Regions from separate parts of the Homo sapiens genome. Here region 1 is linked to region 2. Evidence: fine-mapped expression QTL. A gene starts in region 2. The other region holds a variant in brackets. All regions are shown on one strand. Distances are from middle to middle. Region 1 overlaps MED14 (mediator complex subunit 14). Region 2 holds the start of MED14 (mediator complex subunit 14).

The links.
Region 1: its variant is fine-mapped to the expression of MED14 in cerebellum (GTEx, PIP above 0.99). The same link has a PIP of 0.9 or more in cerebellar hemisphere.

What each region holds. Positions count from the first base shown.
Region 1 is chrX:40,707,619-40,715,618 of GRCh38, forward strand. MED14 (mediator complex subunit 14) reads right to left here. Exons shown (of 31, transcript NM_004229.4): 4 at 6,919-7,092; 5 at 6,160-6,289; 6 at 5,296-5,424; 7 at 4,568-4,675; 8 at 3,551-3,683; 9 at 2,361-2,511; 10 at 1,730-1,841. Among named protein-coding and RNA genes, the nearest start is that of MED14, 24 kb to the right of the region's middle. The variant T/C (reference allele first, on the strand shown) is at 3,462.
Region 2 is chrX:40,732,027-40,744,226 of GRCh38, forward strand. MED14 (mediator complex subunit 14) reads right to left here and starts at 3,516. Exons shown (of 31, transcript NM_004229.4): 1 at 3,172-3,516. The coding sequence starts at 3,386. It overlaps MED14OS (MED14 opposite strand), which reads left to right and starts at 3,664. Exons shown (of 2, transcript NR_169211.1): 1 at 3,664-3,764; 2 at 6,167-6,672. RefSeq lists enhancers at 2,886-3,807, 3,808-4,728 and silencers at 3,124-3,503, 3,764-3,853.

The DNA of each region.
Region 1 (8,000 bases), 27 kb before region 2:
AACATGCTGTGAACCTCAAAAAAAATGTGTTAAAAACAGTATGTAAGAGACCACACATTATGATTCCATTTATATGAAATGTCCAAATAGGCAAATCTATAGAGTTAGAAAGTAGATTAATGATTGCCAAAAGGGAGGCAGGAAGGGAGAGGAGTGAATGGGTTGTGACTGCTAATGGGTACACGGTTTCTTTCTGGGATGATTAAAATGTTCTAAAATCAAATTGTGGTGATAGTTGCACAACTCTTTCAGTAAAAACCATTGAATGAGGTAATTATATGTGAATTATATCTCAATAAAGCTGTTAAGAAAAAAAGACGAAAAGGCAGTGGTGGTTAGTAGCCTTTCTAATTCCAGTGAGAGTTTCAATTATACTTTCCAATCATAATTTTTAGGTCTGTATTTAACATCTTTGCTTGAGGGATTAAAGGGGAGGGCCTTCTACTGAAGCTTTTAATTAAATTAAGATAATGAAGTACTGATAAAGCTAATGTTAAACCCTGATAGGGCTAATGGACAGGCACCCCCAAGACACATCTAACCAATACATTCACCAAATTTCTGGCAGATCCTTTATTTCTTTTTTAAGGCCCATATTTGCATTTTTGTTAAGTTAGGCTGCCCCTCTCCTTAGTCTCTTTAAAAATATAAGCTAATGCTTTGGTTTATCTTAGATCCCCTCTTTCACCTCTATCTTTTCACTTTCCTTGAATGAGTATGTATTCTAAATACACACTTATTTTTCTAACTTTCTGTCTTTCCTTCAGGCAATTTTTTAAAATCTATTTCTGTCAAAGTGATTTTAATCCAGAGTTACTAGTACATACCTAAGAAGCTGCTTCTTTAAGTATAATGGATTGAGCTGAGCTCTGTGATGACAAAAGGCAGCACCTTCGTTACTAGCACTATTAAGACTTCCTACTTATAAGGCACTTCACTTACGTCATCTAACTTAATTAAAGACTGTGCACTGTGGGCACAAGGTAATTATGGCCAAAAACAATTGGGGCAGGGATAGTAAATATGCCCATTATGATGTTGCGAACCTATATTCCCAGAATGAAAGGGTTTACTTTCTAAATGACTGTCCCTCAAAGCTCTGAATATACTTACTAGGTAATTAAACTTGGAAGATTTTTCACTATGTCCATGTATCTGCATTCCTTATTTGAACTGTTAATAATTTTTAAAAATTTTTTAAAAAGACAAGGGATGAATTCTGCTTCACTCAAAGGGGCATATTTTACAAGTATATTATAAATATTTGGAATGCTGTTTTATCACTAGAAAAAAGTTTAAAAATAAGGTTCATATTAAAATGTTAGCTCATGTTTCATAAAGTTTTTCTTTTTTATTTAAAAAATTTTATAAATAGAGACGGGGTCTCATTTTTTGCCCTGGCTTGTCTAAAGCTCCTGGCCTCAAGTGATCCTTACATCTCGGCCTCCCAAAGTGCTGGTATTACAGGTGTGAGCCACCATGCCCAGCCCCATTTCATAAAGTTTTAAGGAAATCCAATACACAAATATTTCAAAAATAAGGCCAAGCTAAATAAGTAACAAGGGAAAAATTAGCATAAGTTTGGCAGATCACAAGTTAAAATGCAGAAATACCAGCTTCCACAATAAAAGCAAAATATCAAGAAAAAGTCATATTAAGATTCTCATCAAATAAAACTGGATTCTAGTTTAAACAAAAGAAAAACAAATGTCAATTTAAAAGAACCTACAGTTTTCATTGGCATTGAAGCCTCTAAGAATGGCCTTCAGTTCTTGGAGCTTCTGATGAGCTCTTGCATGGACACTGTCAATCAGGAGTTTTTCTATTGATAAGTGGTCGATCTGCATAAATAAGAACAACAAATTCAAATGTGCAATTTAAACATTTTTACTTTAAAAGCCCAAGAGTAGATTACTGTGCTTCAAAATATTTCCTTTTGGAATCACACTGATTAAGTGTTAACCCTAATAGAAAGCAAACTTAAAGTTAAAAATTAACTAATATGGTATTGAGTTAAAAATTAACTTACAATTGATAGCTTAAAAACTATAGTTAACATTTTGGTAAGTAATAGGAGAAGATATTACAAATCAGTTATGGTGCTCTAATGCCAGACCTTAAAATTAAAATGGTATCTGATCTAAATTATAAAATATGAAAGAATATCTTAAAAATTATATATTATAGTATCAGATGTTTTAAAAAAACAAATGTAAGAAGTGTAACATTTACTTAAAATAAGTTTCATAAAAGGTTTTAGGAAGAATTAGATATTTTTAAAAATTTGTGCTAAGAGTTTAAGGATAAATGGCAAGTTACATTCATTTAAACCAATATGAAAATATATTGAGATCTTTTACCTTCATGGCTCTTTCTACTAATTTGGAATCAGAAGCTGGCAAAGGAGGATCGTGAAAAATCTGTAAAGGCTTGGAGACATCATTCTCATCAATTTTAATTGTAACTTTGTGAACAGATGCTGTTCCAGTTTTTCTCCCAAGAACCTGTTGACTAAAGAAAAAAATGAAATGAAGAATTTTTTTCAACACAGTCTGTTAACTTCTAGAATAAAATAGAGACAATCCATTGTGCAGTTTAGCCACAGCCTGGAATACGGCAGGCCCCCAGTGTTTGTGGAGGGAATAATAATGGGAAGATAGCTATTCTGTAATCCAATACAATATTTGATTTATTGCATTTAAAAAAGACATATAATTTAAAAATAAAACATATGCACACATGAAAAAGAACCCCAAAACAAAAACTACCTGTCTTCTAAGTAGTATCTACTCACCTCTGACTCCTTTACAGAAAATGGGGGTCATTTGGGATAATAAGATGCCGGGGTGGGGAGAAAAACAGGAATCAAGTAAAGTTCAAACAGGGAATTGAGAGTTACAAACAGTCCAATAGGAATTTTCTCCCAAAGAAAGTTTTTAACAGGCACAATTCAAAGTGGAAAACTGTGATAAGCATGCATGTTTTAAAAAATGATACCCAACAATCTAACCTAATGGTCTTTTCTAACCTAACGGTCTTTTAGCTATTTGGTATAAACCCAAAGTAAACTAACCTCTCAAACTTTTTAAGAATAGTAAGTCTTAGTACAAACAGGTAAATGTCTATGTATTTAAAACATGTTCTAAGACAGGTGTCAACTATGGATGTCCTATGTGGTCTACATAATACTATGGGACCTTACTACACAAAAGCATGTTACTAGAGGTGCATAGCTATTGGTATACAGTCATTCCTTGGTATACTTGGGAGACTGGCTCCAGGATTCCCGTCCCAATACCAAAATCCACGCAAACTCACGTCCTGCAGTCAGTCCTGCGGTCAGCCAGCAGAACCCACGTATAGGGAAGGTTGGCCCTATACGCAGGTTTCACATCTTGCAAATTGATCTGCATATAAGTGGACCCACACAATTCAAGCTTGTGTTGTCCAAGGGTCAACTG[T/C]ATATTAAATCAGATGTATGAGAGAAAAAGAGAAATAAAAAGAGTATTTACAGTCATAGCACGAACCCACCAGAACTGATTTTACTTACTTCCAAACTGAAAGGGAGAGGCACTTTCCAGCATGATACCTTTCCACCTGCACAAGGTCTCCCCACCGTTCTCGGATTAACATTAGAGTTTGGGAATGTAACACTTCTAACTGAAGTGATAAACAGAAAGAATCTGATAGATGTTGTTAAGTAAAATTAATACATTACACCAACAGTCAATCAAGTCCAGGAGAACTTCATTTAAGGAAGGTTCTCTTATTGAAAACCTGGAGAAAAATTTCTGAAGAAAATTTCTGAAATGATTATTTCTCCAATGCCTCATCGTAAAAAGTATTATAATTTATAGCATAATTTCAGAAAAAGGTTTTATATTTAATTTTAAACCAATATAAAACCATAAAGTCTGGGTTGTGTCTTAATTCATCATAGTTTAGAGAACATGGATTGACCAAATAGTACTATTTTTTTCACCAAACAGTACTTTTTTATTATTATTATTTTGTGTGTGTGTGTGACGGAGTCTTGCTCTGTCATCCAGGCTGGAGTGCAGTGGCATGATCTCGGCTCACTGCAACCTCTGCTTCCTGGGTTCAAGCGATTCTCCTGTCTCAGGCTCCCTAGTAGCTGGGATTACAGGTGCCCGCCACCACACCAGGCTTCTTTTTTTTTTTTTGGATTTTTAGTAGAGACAGGGTTTCACCATGGTGGCCAGGCAGGTCTTGAATTCCTGACCTCAAGTGATACACCCGCCTCAGCCTCCCAAAGTGCTGGGATTACAAGCATGAGCCACCGTGCCCAGCCTCAAACAAGACTATTTTTAACTAATCACTTTTTGCTTTTACCTGCAAAGTCAACAGTAAAATTTTAAATTTGGTTTATTACAAACATATCACTATTCTTCACTATTCTCCAGCCCTATCTGCACCTCAAAAAGGGTGGGGGAGATGGGGGCAAGGAATGTAGGCTGCTACAGTTCAAGACTAAGGACAAATGAAAAATGTGGGAGAGGTACCACAAAATCCTTACAAATATATGTCTCAAATTTCAGAAGGATACGTAGGCAGTTGTACATATCCTGAAGAGGTTTCTCATCAGCAAAGAGCCTAGACTGCACCAGTTGATGGATGAAGCTGATTTGCATGCTATGAACCAAAGCTCGCCCATCTTCCGTTGGCAGAAGAAAAGAAAGCAGTTAATTAAATAGGTGTACAAGTGTGTCACTATACCAACTAAGGAAGCACATAATAACAATGAATTTTTTTAAAAAGCACTGAAATTATCTACAGAAACTTGACATTGTACTCTGAGAAACACTGAAACTTCCACGGTCAACAGGCAGTTACAATTATAAAACTTGCTTCAAATTACAGGATAAATTGCTGCATGCATTTATTATTTTGCAGGAATATATATATAGAGAGACAGGATCTTGCTCTGTCACCCAGGCTAGAGTGCAGTGGCATGATCATGGCTCATTGCAGCCTCAACCTCCCTGGGCTCAGGTGATCCTCCCACCTCCCAACCCCAGCCTCCCAAGTAGCTGGGACTACAGGAACACACCACCACGCCCGGCTAATTTTTAAATTTTTTGTAGAGACAGGGTCTTGCTATATTGTCTAGGCTGGTCTCAAACTCCTGAGCTCAAGCGATCCACCTGCCTTGGCCTCCCAAAGTAGTGGGATTACAAGCATGAGCCATCATCCCCAGCCGGGAATATTTCAATAATATAAAAAATCAAACATTTAAACTAATACTTATGATTTAAATCACTACTTATGATTTACCTCCTGTTTCCTTATCCTCAACTAGAATTTCTAGCTTGAGAAGACGCCATGGAACATCAGGGTCATCTCCCATCACAGTCAAGGTGGCTTCAAATTCTCCTTCAACACGAAACTTCACCCGGCCATTTGCTTTTAGAAGAAAAAGATGAAGAAAAAGAAGTGTACTTTGCTAGAAAATGAGAATCTTCCTCCTGACCTAGAATTTTCAGTCTTACTTATAAAAATTTTTAAATAGATTGAAGGTTCTTTCATAAGGTTCCAACAATTCAATGGTTCCTGAATAAGAAGTAGCCAGCTTCCAGGTCAAGAAATGAAAGGCAACTCTTCTAACATAAATGAACAATATTTTCTTGAGGCACAACTCTGGGGACTCTTCTCTCTTTCCAGCCCCACTCCCAAGCTGCAAATACCAGCACTGTATTTCTAGGTACTAAAGAGAAATGATACAGCTGGCAAGTCGTAGAATCAAACACCATAAAACTGTCAGTCAAATCTTCATGATGCTATTTTTCCTTGAATAAAACCCAAAAAGCTGTTTAGGAAAATATTCTAACATGCAAATTCTGTCACCCAGGCTGGAGTACAGTGGTGCAATCTTGGCTCACTGCAACCTCTGCCTCCCAGGTTCAAGCAATTCTCATGCCTCAGCCACCCGAATAGCTGGGATTACAGGTGCGGGCCACCGCACCCAGCTAATTTTTGTATTTTTAGTAGAGATGGGGTTTCACCATGTTGGCCAGGCTGGTCTCAAACTCCTGACCTCAAGTGATCTGCCTGCCTCAGTCTCCCAAAGTGCTGAGATTACAGGCATGAGCCACCGCACCTGGCCATCAACTCTTAAAAAAATAAATTTCAGATACATACCAACTGTAAGATTTGCTAACTGAGGAGGAAGATCTGTGGTTACAAGCCGATGTCTAAGAATCTGATTCAGCTGATGGAGTGTGGCTTGTTTTTCAATTTTGGTAATTGGGTCTGGAGGAATAATTTTGTCCTGCAAAAAAATTTAAGTGATTTTTAAATAATGTACAAACGGGGATTTTTTTTTTCAATCTTTTCCTGTCTTTATACAGTGTTGCGTACTTTACCTAAGAGAATCTTAACACTCATTTCTGCAGTCTACTTACAAAAACAATGGCCATTACTATCATGCATAAGAGCAACAATGATTCTAGTCATTTAGCTAAGATCATAATACAACATGACCTCCCTTAATGCTCTATTTATAAACCAACTAAATATCACTTGATAGCTTCCACAAGTTCTTACAAGTATAAAATACAATATGGCACCAAGTCAGTAAACTACCAAAACAATAAAAGTTTAAAACACTTTCAAAAAGCAACTAGCATGTAGCATTTTCACATCTGAAATAGATGTTATGTCTGCACATCCGCGCATCCCTGGGGGAAAAAAAAATAAAACCTTCACCCATTTTGATATCTACTCACATCTGGCCCCAACTTATTTCAAAAAAGCACAACTTTAGTTACAGAGAAAAAAAGCAAACTATATGTACTGTTTGTTTTAACAATGTTTTTTGCTGGGCTACTTAATAATACAATCCAATCCAGTGCCAAAACCTTTAGTTTTTAGGAACATGGGGGCAAGCAAAGAACTTACCCTAATGCAGGTTGGCAGCCGTGGGTAAGATCCAGTAGTTAGTACATCAATGGCATATGGGATGGCAAAACTAGGCAGGCGTGCATGGACCAGAGCATCTCTAGCTAACGAGGCCAGGCGATCAGCAGTGTCCACAAACAGGATGGCTTGCTGATCTAAAAAGCTTGAAATCATCTTTAAAGTAAAGGGTAAATGTATTAAGCATCCCTGAAAACTATCTCCTTTTCACACTAAATATTGTTAAATCATTCCAAAGTAAACTTCAAGGGGAATTAGTATCAGTTTTCCATATTTCAAAGTAGTTCTTCAAATATTCTCCAGTAACTTGAAGAAGAAATATTTAATACACTAGTATTTGATATTAAGAGCAATAATTTTCTGTCACTTTAAGTAAAAGCTTTCTAATTCATTTCTCCATCCTTAACATTACACACACATAATATCAAAGTTAGGAAAAATAAGTAGAATAAAATGGTTTTTTCCTCTTACAGACTTCCAGAGTTGGTTGGTAATGAAGGAGTTAAAAGCATGGACTCCTAGACCTAGACTGCCTTGTTCTCCATTTTAACTCTGCTACTTACCAGTCTTGTAACCTTGGGCAAGTAACTTAACCTCTTTGTGCCTCAGCTTTTTTCAACTGTAAAATGGAGGTGATCATGATTCCCAATCTCATAAAGTTGTTCTCTGTATTAAGAGATAATGCAAAATAGAGAACACAGAAATCCACACATAGCCAACTCATTTTCCAAAAAAGCACCAAGAACATACACTGGGGAAAGGACAGTTTCTTTAATAAATGGTGATGGGAAAACTCGATAACCATCATATGCAAAAGAATGAAACTAGACCCCCATCTCTCACACTATACAAAAATGAACTGAAAATGAATTAAAGGCTTAAGCATGAGACCTGAGACTATGAAACTACTAGAAGAAAGCATTGGAAAAATGCTCTAAGACATTGGCCTGGGCTGGGTGCGGTGGCTCAGGTCTGTAATCCCAGCACTTTGGGAGGCCAAGGTGGGCAGGTCACGAGGTCAGGAGATTGAGACCATTCTGGCTAACATGATGAAACCCTGTCTC
Region 2 (12,200 bases):
GAAAAATAAAGCAGCAAGTAAGAAGGACAGAGTGAAGGGGCAGAGTACTATTTTATAGGTGGTCAGAGAAAATCTTTCTGATAAATTGTATGTAAACAAGGACCTAAAGGACTAATGAGAAAGCAATTCACACAGATTTCTAGGGAAAAAGCAAAGGCTCTAAGATGGCAGTGTGCTAGGCACTAACAAGAAACATCAAGAAGGTTTGGAGGCTGGGCACAGCGGCTCACGCCTGTAATCCCAGCATTTTGGAAGGCCAAGGCGGGTAGATCACCTGAAGTTGGGAGTTTGAGACCAGCCTGGTCAGCATGGTGAAATCCCATTTCTACTAAAAATACAAAAATTAACCAGGTGTGGTGGTGCATGCCTGTAATCGCAGCTACTCGGGAGGCTGAGGCACAAGAATCACTTGAACCCGGGAGGCGGAGGCTGCAGCAAGCCGAGATCACACCACTGCACTCCAGCCTGGGCAACACCGTGAGACTCTGTCTCAAAAAAAAAAAAAGGTTTGGGAGGCAGAGGTGGGAGGACTGCTTAAGCCCAGGAGTTCAAGATCAGCCTGGGCAACATAGTGAGACTCTTGTCTCTACCAAAAATAAAAAAATTAGCTGGGCGTGGTGGCGCATGCCTGTAGTTCCAGCTATTTGGGAGGCTGAGGCAGGAGGAGCAGTTGAGCCCATGTCGAGAGGCTGCAGTGAGCATGACTGTGCCACACTGCACTCCAGCCTGGGCAACAGAGTGAGACCCTGTCTCAAAAATAAAAAAGAAACATCAGGAAGGGTAATGTGGTCGGAACAGGATAAGCAAAGAGGAGAGTTTCAGGACATGCAGTTAAAGAGGTAAGGGACAAACCAAAAGTGGTTAAGAGGTTGGAGAAAAAAAAAAGGTTAAGGAACAGAGAAGGCACATCATGTAAGGCCTTAAAGGTAAGATGACCACATGTTCTGGTTTTCTGGTTTGCCCAAGACAGTCCTGGTTTATGCCTCTTGTTCTGACATTATTATCATCAGCCCCATTATGCTCAAAAGTGTCCCGGTTTGGACTATAAATTTTATGGTCACTATACAGATGATTATCAATATTTTTTTTTTTTTTTTTGAGATAGGATCTCACTGTCACCCAGTCTGGAGTGCAGTGGTGCGAACATGCTCACTGCAGCCTCAACCTCCTGGGCTCAAGCGAACCTCCTGGGCCCAAGCAATCCTCCCACCTCCACCTTCCAAGTAGCTGGAACTACAGGCTTGGGCCACCACACCCAGCTAATTTTCTATTTTTGGTAGAGACAGAGTCTCGAACTCCTGGGCTCAAGTGACCCCCTCCCCTGCCTCAGCCTCCCAAAGTGCTGGGATTACAGGTATAAGCCACCACACCTGGCAATTATCAACACTTTTTAATCTCAGTGAGATGGGGAACCATCGAAGGGTTCTAAGCAGAGAAATTTTAAAAGAATCATCCTGGCTATTTTGTGGAGAAGAAACTATAGAAGGGGCAAGGGAACTACAGAGATACCAGTGAACTGACTATTGCAGTACACAGGTGAAGGATTAGGTGGCTTGGACCAGCACTTGGTGGAAGTGTTGAGAAATGGTCAGACTCTGAAGTCAAAGATAACAGGACTTGCTGATGTATGTAGGATGTGAAGAGAGAGGAGCCAGGAGTTATTCCAAAATATTTGGCCTGAGCAACAACAGGAAGAATGGAGAGACTAGTGAGATAGCAAAGAAGGTTCTGCAGGAGGGAGGACAGTGGAATCAGGAGTTTGGTGCTGGAGTTGCTATGTTGAAATGCCCATCAAGATACTGAAATGTAGGCATCTGGATATAGAGTCTGGAGTTCATCAGAGAGGTCTGTGCTGGAGATACAAATATGGGAACCATCACATAAAGGGTGTGGGACTATAACTACATACTTATTCTACGGCAATAAAACAGATGTTCCTCTCTTCATAAGCCAAGTCCTAAAATAGTAAAAAGACAACCACAATTCAAGGAATTTCTACAAATCCCCTATGGAAAAGCAAATTACACCACCGATAGCAGCAGTTTTCAACATTTTTTTTCCCACAGCTCTATATAGGCACATACATGAAACTTTCTCATGGATATTCTTGGATTTTTATGAAATCCAACAATAAATGGTGCAGAGAGGTATATCATTATAATAGTCCCTAAACCTGACAGCGATTTAAATTTCTCATTAGCCATGGGTAGGCTTCTTTAACACTACTTTTTTCTGTCCCATTCAAAAAAGTACAATACATCAAAACTGAGAATGACGTTTTACAGGAGTTAAGTAGAGCCTACTCTTTCAGTCATCTGCAAACAAGTATCTGTTATCAGTCTCTAAAAACAAATTACTGTGACGCTTTAGAGCCTAATATCTGCATACTAATGTATCTCAATTGATAACCCTGATCTGAAGTCTTGCAATAGATAAAAAATAAAATTCTGATTAACTTTTTCTGAACCTGGGTTATAAGATGTACAACAGAGTCCCAAAATGTTACGGTGCCTTTTCTTCACACACTGAAATTCGTTAGTATATTCTGATCCTATTCTGAAGGGATTAACAACTTAATCATGCCCCAAGGCATTTCATGGGTAACTAGGTGATTTATAAACCCCCTTCATACTCCAAGAAATAACAGACTACTTACAAAAAAATTTTACTCACACTAACTTCATTAAGACCTCAAACACTCAAAAGTTCCAGAAAAAAAGTACTTTGAATTCAAATTTGTATTTTATACACAACGTATGTAGCTCCTGCATTAACTTAGAAGCAATAACAGCTTACATTTAAAACGTATCGTCAAGAGGCTGTAATACAAATTTCCCATCTATAGAGTTTTTTCTAAAAGCTCGAATATTATGTATTCCAGCCAAGAAATCAAGAGAGTTCTGTTGGGAACTCGGACAAAAATTTCACACAATTTTCAGTGGAAGTGTAACAACACGCAAAATTAACAAGTCTCTGTTGCATCGTTGCCAGGAAGACCCCAGATACAAAGCTTCTTCTCCACCTCTGCTGAACCCCAGGAGTTCAAAAATTCTAGACTAAGCAGTCCAGCGGAGAACACAGCAGCCTCTCGGGGAGAGGGAGGTGCAAACGTCTCAGCCGGTTGGGCGGGAAGGGGGGCTGGGGAACAGGCAGGGGTTTCGGGGCACTTACAGGTCCGTCAACACCATAAGCTCCGAGTAGGCCCGGTGCAGCAGAAATTCAATGAGGGTGCTCAGCCGGTAGCCCGGGCTAGCCGCAGCTGCAGCGGCCGCCGCCACGGCGGCTCCCGGGGGAGGAGGGGCTGGGGCTGACGGGGGTCCGCCGCTGCCCCCGCCGCCGCCTCCGGGCGGGACCAGCTGGTGGTTCTCCAGCTGCACTGGGGCCATGGCGGCGCAGGACCGGGCTTGGCGCAACGGCACACGATGCGGTCCTCGAGCCTCCCGGGCGCTCGGTCACCGCGCCGAAACGGGAGCGGGCAGAGTCGCCACCGCCTACCGCCGGGCCGCCTCAGAACAGGAAGCCGTGCGCCGACCGCGGAAGCCCGCCCCCATGTAGCGAGAAGTCCGCCGACCCCAGGGACAGGAGCGAGGGGCGGGGGGAGGCGGGGATGGGGGGGAAGCAGGGCGGCCCCGCAGAGGGGAAGCTGCGCCTCCGCAAACGCTCAGAAGCAGCTTCGCCAGACAGCCGCAACGTACATGTTGACTGCCCGAGGCGGAAGTCGATCGGCAGAGCGGAAGGGGGACCTGCAGAGGACCTTCCGACAGGTCTGTGTCTGTTCTCTCAGCTGTCTAGCACCGCAGCGCTGGGGGGCGCGTGGGAGTGAGGCGGTACCTGTGAGCGCGCGGGAGAGCGGAAAAGGGAGCCGCGCGCCGCCGGAAACCAGGGTGAGGGCTGAGCCGGAGTCGTCACCGGGAACGTCAGCAGTTGCCCCGCCCTTACCCTCGCCGCTCTCCCTCCCGCCTCCGCCCCCTGGCGTTGTAAAGGCGACAATTTGCCCAGAGAAATCCACCATCGCTTCCTAAGTGGGGCACAAACACAGCCAGGGGAGGCCTCCTCTAAATGTTCGTGAATTCTGGTTCTGGAATCGCGAAGAAATGGGAGCGGCCGCGCGCTTGTGATTCTCAGGCCTTTGCTCCTCCCATACACGTCCACGGCGCGTTACGTGGGAGAACGTTTTCGCCCCTTTTTTTTTTTTTCCAAACTGTGGGAAAAGGTGCTAGAAAATATGATTGCGGGTAGAGACAGGGCCGCTGGCAGAGTAACTCAATTTTAATAGAGTCGGGTGTATGCTGAGGTCGTCACCATCCCCCAAATCCTGTCAGTCCCACACAAAAACGGCCCTTAAATCCCCTGCCACGGGCTCTCATATAGTTTTTGTCCTTGCTCTTGCAGTCACCGCTCTATTCTGAAGGGCTTTTCAGTTCATCCATGCCTACCGACACTCCCGTCCCCCCCATCAAAGTCCACGTTTAATTTTTTGTACCTGCTTTAAAACAGCGATTCTCAACCTTGGCTGCACTTTGCAATTATCTGAGGAGCTGTTTTTTAAAAAAATACTTAGATATATGGGTTCCACCCCTGTAGATTCAGATTTAATTGGTCTGGCTTGAGGTCTGGGCTTGGGGAATTTTTGAACTTTCCTAAGGTGATTCTAACATGCCCTAACGTAGAGATTCACTATTAGAAGCATTCGTTGCTGCGACCCCTTTCAAACATCTTTTTGCAGTTTCATCTCCTCTTGGTGTAAGAGATGTTCATGATGTTCCCTAAGGTTAGAATATTCTTACTGTCATCACTTGGGTAATTCTTTATCATTGTTGAAAGCGGTTCATCTGCTTCTGAAGGTGTAAGCTCACTTGTTCCCTCCCTTGGTGGTCCTAAAGCACATTGAAACAGAATATCATTGTGCTAGTTATTAAAATGCATTGGGATTATTTATACCCCTTACAGATACAGTTGCTGGAAGGCAGCTACCTTATTTTTAAATATTATTTTTATTTTTAATTGATAGTATATACTTATGGCATACAATGTGATGTTTTGAAACATGTAACCATTGTGGAATGAGCAAATCAGGCTATTAACATCTATCAAATGATATACATACTTACTTCTTTTGGTGAGAACATTTAAAATCCACTTTTAGCAACTTTGGAAGATACAAAAGGTTATTGCTAATTGTAGTCACATTGCTGTGCAATAGATCACCAGAACTTATTCCGCCTATCTAACTGAAACTTTGTACCCTTTGACTAATATTTCCCCTTTCTCCACCCACTGTCCTACCCGGCCTCTGGTGGTAACCACCATTCTACTCTTTACTTTTTTTTTTTTTTTTTTTTTTTGAGACAGAGTCTCGCTCTGTCGCCCAGGCTGGAATGCAGTGACGCGATCTTGGCTCACTACAACCTCGCGTCCCAAGTTCAAGCGATTCTCCTGCCTCAGCCTCCTGAGTAGCTGGGATTACAGGCACGTGCCACCACGCCCAGCTAATTTTTTTTAAATTTTTATATTTTTAGTAGAGATGGGGTTTCGCCATGTTGGCCAGGCTGGTCTCAAACTCCTGACCTCAGGTGATCCACCCACCTTGGCCTCCCAAAGTGCTGGGATTACAGGCATGAGCCACCATGCCCGGCCTGAATTTCATTCTTTTTTAAGGCTGAATAGTATTCTGTTGTATATTTATACCACATTTTTTAATTCATTCATTGGTTGATGGACACTTTGATTCCGCATCTTAGCTATTATGAATAATGGTGCAATGAACATGGGAGTGCAGATATCTCTTCAACATACTGATTTCAGTTCCTTTGGATATATACCCAGAAGTAAGATTGCTGCATCCTGTAGTAATTCTATTTTTAGTTTCTTAAGGAACCTCCATACTGTTTTCCAAAATGGGTGTACTACAAATTTACATTCACATCAATAGTGTACAAGGGTTCCTTTTTCTCCACACCTTCACCAACACTTGTTATCTTTCATCTTTTTGATTATAGACATTCTAACAAAATTTGTTTGCTCCCTACACAAATTAATTGTGTGGTTTTAATTTGCATAGAGAGGCAGGCAAAGGCTACTCTGCTAATGGCTTTAGAGGCCACAGTAAGAAGTTTGGGTTTTATTCTAAATGCAAAGCCATTACAATGTTCTCATTTTTTTCTAGGTTGGTCAGACCATGCCCATGGTTCCTCCTCTCGACTTCACTATGAATGCCGCATCTGTTGAATGAATGCAGTTTCTGCTCTTGCTTTTGGATAGAAGTGATTGCAAATCTTATCAAAATAATGAAAAAAATTACTTTTCAATTCCTTTTCAACCCTTTTGAGTCTGAGGGGCAGCTGTACATTAAATGAAACCATATGTATCATAATTTCATTTTTCCATCAAAAGAGCTTTAAAGGAAATTCCCCTTTTTCTCCATGTTTTCAATATTTTTTGTTCCTTTTGTTAAAATCAGATTAATCTCATGAAACATCTGAAGCATTTAAGTCAATTTAAGAGCTGAGAAAATATCATGCTGCTAGTTCTGAAACGATCTGAAGTGTGAATCAGGTGATCACCAAATAGGGGAACAACTGAAAAATGTGAATGAAAGAAGTATGTACCTATACTATAGTGTCAAATATTGTACTGTAAGCTTTAAAATGATAAATTGGAAACTTTCCAAAAGTGGTTTGAATATGGGTCATTTATTTAGTAACTCAGCCAAACATGCTAACATTTTCTTTCCTTCCCCATTAATTTATTTTACTAGCCCTTCCTATGTTTGCCAAGTGGCTATGTTACTGAAACCAGCCCAATTGTCCCATAGAACCGATGTTTACAGTCTTCTAAAATAAACATAGATATTGACCCTTCCAGTTTTAAAGCTTGAAACTTATATTTGTCTTAACTGAGTTCCTTCCTCGGGAAAATAACCTTCATGCCTCCCAGATAGTTTCAAGAAACTGAAACCAGGTCACCATATCTAGACAATGAGAAGCCAGGTCCCTCATCCTTCATGATTTCCTTACCTCTCCCTAATTCCTGTTTACCCACATGTAGTTACATTCCTTTCCCACTATATAAACCCCCAATTTTAGTCAGTCAGAGAGATGGAATGACTACTTCCCTGGCAACAGTCGTTGTCTCAGTGATTGGCTTTCTGTGCAGGGAGCAATGGGACCTAGACCAAACCCCTGGCATTTTGGTAACACTATCTGGTTGGGAGGTGGGATATCACTGCACTCAGGAGCTTTCATTTACTTTACCTCTCTGGTCTCCAATAATTCAAGCACAGTAAGTTTCATAGTCCTATTGCTGAATTTTCACCTTATTTTTCTTTAGAACATTCTTTTTGATAAATAGTACTTTTCCATTTTTAAAGATACCTATTCAACTCACAGAAATTTCAATAAACTCCCCATCTCCTGCCACTTATTCCCTTACTACACTGTAACTTCACTACATAGTACATGCCATTCCCTCCCACTGAAGATAGCTTGCATTATGTTGCAGATACTTGAAATATTGTTTCCTGGCTGGCTTCTCATCCTTCAAGTATCAGTTTAATGATAAAATCCTCAGAGAGGCTTTCCTGACTATATTACATTAGGCATGTACAAGGAACTTCATTGCAGCTTTATTTGTAGAAGCAAGAAAATATGAACAATCTTAACTGTCTCTCAGTAGGAGAATAGATAAGTAAACTATATTTTTGCCCAGGCATGGTGGCTTATACCTGTAATCCCAGCACTTTGGGAGGCTGAGGCCAGCTAATTGCTTGAGGCCAGGAGTTCCAGACCAGCCTGGCCAACATGATGAAAACTCCGTCTCTACTAAAAATACAAAAACAACAACAACAACAACAACAACAAAAACAAATTAGCTGAGCGTGGTGGTGCAAGCCTGTAATCCCAACTGCTTGGGAGACCGAGGCACAAGAATTGCTTGAACCCGGGAGGCGCAGTTGCAGTGAGCCGAGATCCGCCACTGCACTCCAGCCTGAGTGACAGAGCAAGACTCTGTCCCAAAAATAAAAATAAATAAATAAATAAATATATTTTTATGTAACTGTTCAAATGTATTACAGCTACGTAAACTGACATGAATACATCTTAAAAACAATACTGAATAAAGAAAAGCAATCTTTCTGATACCACTTGTGTCCATTTTAAAAGCACACAAAAGCCGGGCACGGTGGCTCATGCCTGTAATCTCAGCACTTTGGGAGGCCGAAGCGGGCAGATCACCTGAGCCCAGGAGTTCGAGACCAGCCTGGTCAACACAACAAGACTCTGTCTCTACAAAAAATGCAAGAAATTAGCTAGGTGTGATGGCATGCACCTGTGGTCCCAGCTACTCGGGAGGCTGAGGTGGGAGGATTGCTGGAGCCTGGGAGGCAGAGGTTGCAGTGAGCTGAGATCACACCACTGCATGCCAGCCTGGGCAATAGAGCAAGACCTTATGTCAAAAAAAAAAAAAAGAGAAAAGAAAAGCACACAAAATAATACTCTATAATTTAGTATATTGTGTAGTAAAAGTAAAAAATATAAATGGGGATGATATATACCACCTTCAGGATAGTAGTTACTTCTAGGGAGGGCTAAAGGATAAGATGATGCTTTATTGGTTACTAGCTATTTTATCTAATGGATTTCTGGAAGAAAAACATAAAGGAAATGTGACAATATTAATATCTATTAAATCAGGGGATAGAGATCTGATTGTTAATATATTCTGTACTTTTCAATATTTTTAAATATTTCATAATTTTAAAACATTTAAATTTAAATGTTTCTATCAGTATAATTTACACTAGCTACCATTACAAACTCCAAAATCTTGGTGACTTAACAGAGTAAGAGTTTATTTCTCATGCTCATGAATCTCAATAAAGATGTACCTGATGGGGATGGTCCTCTAAGTAGTAACTCGGAGACCCAAGCTTCTTCCATCTTGGGAAGCCATCACTATATGAGAATTTTTTTTGTGTGTGTCCACCCATGTTCCATTAGCCAGAATTAGTCATACAGCCCATTTAAAGGCTAGGGACCTGGAAAATATGGTCTTCTTGTGTGCTTAGGGAAGAAATGAAATAGTATGATGAACAGATAGCATTGTTTTTACCACAATATTAAAGTAGTCTCCTCTTTTTTTCCCCTTAGAGCACAGCCCCTGAAATCAGACTGCTTAGATTCAAATCCTAGCTCTACCACACACTATCTGAACGCTCTCCAGCAAGTTACTTTACTTTGCGTGATCTCAGTTTCTTCATCTGTAATAATACTGCTTACCTCAAAGGATGATTGTGAAGAATTAATGAGTTGACATGTGCAAAGGGCTTAAAATAGTAAGTGGTCTTCATCCTTTGATGATCAAACAGTAAGTGATCATCATCATTTAGGATCAGTAAGTCTTGTATTTGCTTATTCACCTAATAACCTGTGAACTTTCTTCTTCTGTCCTCATGTGGCTATCTTTCTGATCTCCCCACCTACCATAGTGCCTAGCTACCTGGCTTTAATGAATGAATGGGATGAATATATTTTTGCACCAACCTAATATTTCTTCATTTATATGCTATAGTTCTATTTGTATTACATTTACTTTTGTAGGATTAATATTGACTTACAGGCTGGGCGCAGTGGCTCACGCCTGTAATTCCAGCACTTTGGGAGGTCAAGGCAGGCAGATCAGGAGGTCAGGAGTTCGAGACCAGCCTGGCCAACATGGAGAAACCCCGTCTCTACTAAAAAAAAATACAAAATTAGCCGGATGTGGTGGTGGGCACCTGTAATCCCAGCTACTTGGGAGGCTGAGGCAGGAGAATTGACTGAACCCAGGAGGCAGAGGTTGTAGTGAGCCGAGATTGTGCCATTGCACCCCAGCCTGGGTGACAAGAGCAAGACTCTGTCTAAACAAACAAACAAACAAACAAACATTGACTTACATATATTTACATGAAATAAAGTGTCAGGATTTTTTTGTGGAGGGGAGAGGGGACAGGGTCTCACTCTATTGCCTAGGCTGGAGTGCCATGGCACAATCATAGCTCACTGCAACCTCTATCTTCTGGGCTCAAGTGATCTTCCTGCCTCAGCGGAGACTACAGGCACACATTACTGCACCCAGCTGATTTTTAATTTTTTTTTTTTTTTGTAAAAAGGAGGTCTTGCTATATTGCCCCAGCTGATCTTGAACACCTGGCCTCAAGCTGGCCTCAAGCAATCCTCCTACCTTGGCCTCCCAAAGTGTTAGAATTACAGGTGTGAGCCTCCATGCCTGGCCTCAGGATTTTTTTAAAAATGCTTCAGAAAAAAATGTTGGGGAGTTACATGAAATAAGATTAGCAGAATGTTGACAGTTGTTAAAGCTGATGATGAATACATGGGCGTTCATTATAGTCTTCTTTTCTGTGTTTCAGAATATACATAATAAAAGTTCAAAAAAAAGACTGGAAATGGGGAGCCAACTAAAGGCCCAGATCTTTTCTCTTTCCTAATGAACAGCCTTTAATATATATCTATTCATTTTCAGATTTAAAAATTTCTAATTTACAGAGTGTCTAACATAAAAAAGAAAACTACACGGAAACTTCAATTATAATTGCCTATGAAAGAGATAAAAGTGTCAAATATTTTAACAGTTTTGGTTTCAGGCCTTGAAAAGAATGTTTCTGAGGAACTCTTAAAAAAAACTTATACAATTTTATAATCTTAAAATTTTCTAGCTATGCTAAAATTCAGTGTCTTTTAAATAAATGTTTTCTAATGGGTGAACAAAAGAAGAAGAAAAAGAAGGGCATTACTAGAAATAGAAACGAGGAGGAGGGAAGGAGTCCATTTAGAATTATTATATTCTTCATTAAGAGATAAAAATCTTGTCTTGCCTTGTTCTCTTTGTTGGAGAAGAGCCCCCTCACCTCTGGAAGGGGCAAGGAGTAAACCTGCCATCCATAGCTGCTCAAAATAAACAATGAAATCAGAGTAAGACACCAGGGCAAATAGCAGGGGCATGAGCATGGTAGCTCTGGTTCCAGTGCCTCCAAGTCTCACGGAGTGTTGTGATGAGCATGGAGACTATATGCACAGTGAGTTGTGCCATAGCTAATGGAACCCAGGGCTGAGGGCTCCATGCGTTAATTCTTACCAGTCAGATTGAAGCAAAGTTGCCTTGGTGCACATATGAGGAAGGAGCTGAGGTGTCATGCACAGCCAAATAGTCATGTTATTGTGAGGGTGTCAGGTATGGCTAAACAGTGCTGCTATTGTGAGAGTGTCATGCACAGTGAAATAGTTCAGATCCTGCCATACCTACATGAGTGTTCTGTTTTTATAGCATGAGGATGGGGATGGTAAACCCAGCAGCAGCGTTGTGTTGCCAATTGCAGCTGCCGCCTGACTCAGGTGGACCATGTGATTGTTTTGCCATGCTGCAGTGCTACATCTAGGGGACAAAGAAAGCATTAAATGTTTCCCCCCTTCCCACACCTCCTGGAGACTAAGGTATTCCTTCCCCAGGTCCCAGGTTTATTGCTCTTTCCATATAGTCCATTTGTTTTAAATCAGTAGCCACTATTTCTCCTTTCGCCCAGCCATCCACCACCTCTACCCAGATGGACGAAGGCTCATGGGAACTGGGCACCATGGGTAGAACTTGCAACAGCCTGTGATGTCCTCTAACATTGCCCAAGCAGGCCACTGTAGGGATACTCTAGTGCCCATGAATTTCACCAACTATTATCCTCATGGCCAGCACTCTTCCATATCCAACACCTGAAACCAAGTCATAGCAGAAGCAAAAGGTTGCAGTCACCTTCCTCCTGTTGCCTAACCTTAGGCTGAAACCAGTCAGGCTTACCAGGCACTAAGGGCCAGTGGAAAAAAAGAATAGGGGTGGCTGAAGATTGTCAGGATGCAATCATAGATACATAGCACCAGTCTCCCATTCCTCCTACCCCTTCCATCCTGGCCTTCCCTAGGCAATGGGAAATTTTGAATATAATTGATCAGAAAACTCTTTCAGTCATGTGCATATTCTAGGAATATCTAGTGTAGGTAAATTGTCACACATGTCTATGAGAAAGAAAAAATTTAATAAACTATTTATTTCACTTAAAAATATAGAGACAAGTAAGTTTAAATAATAGCCTTTGTTACTGTAGTTACATCCAGTGAGGAGCGAAGGGGGAAGAGCCCCTCATAACCAGCAGATCT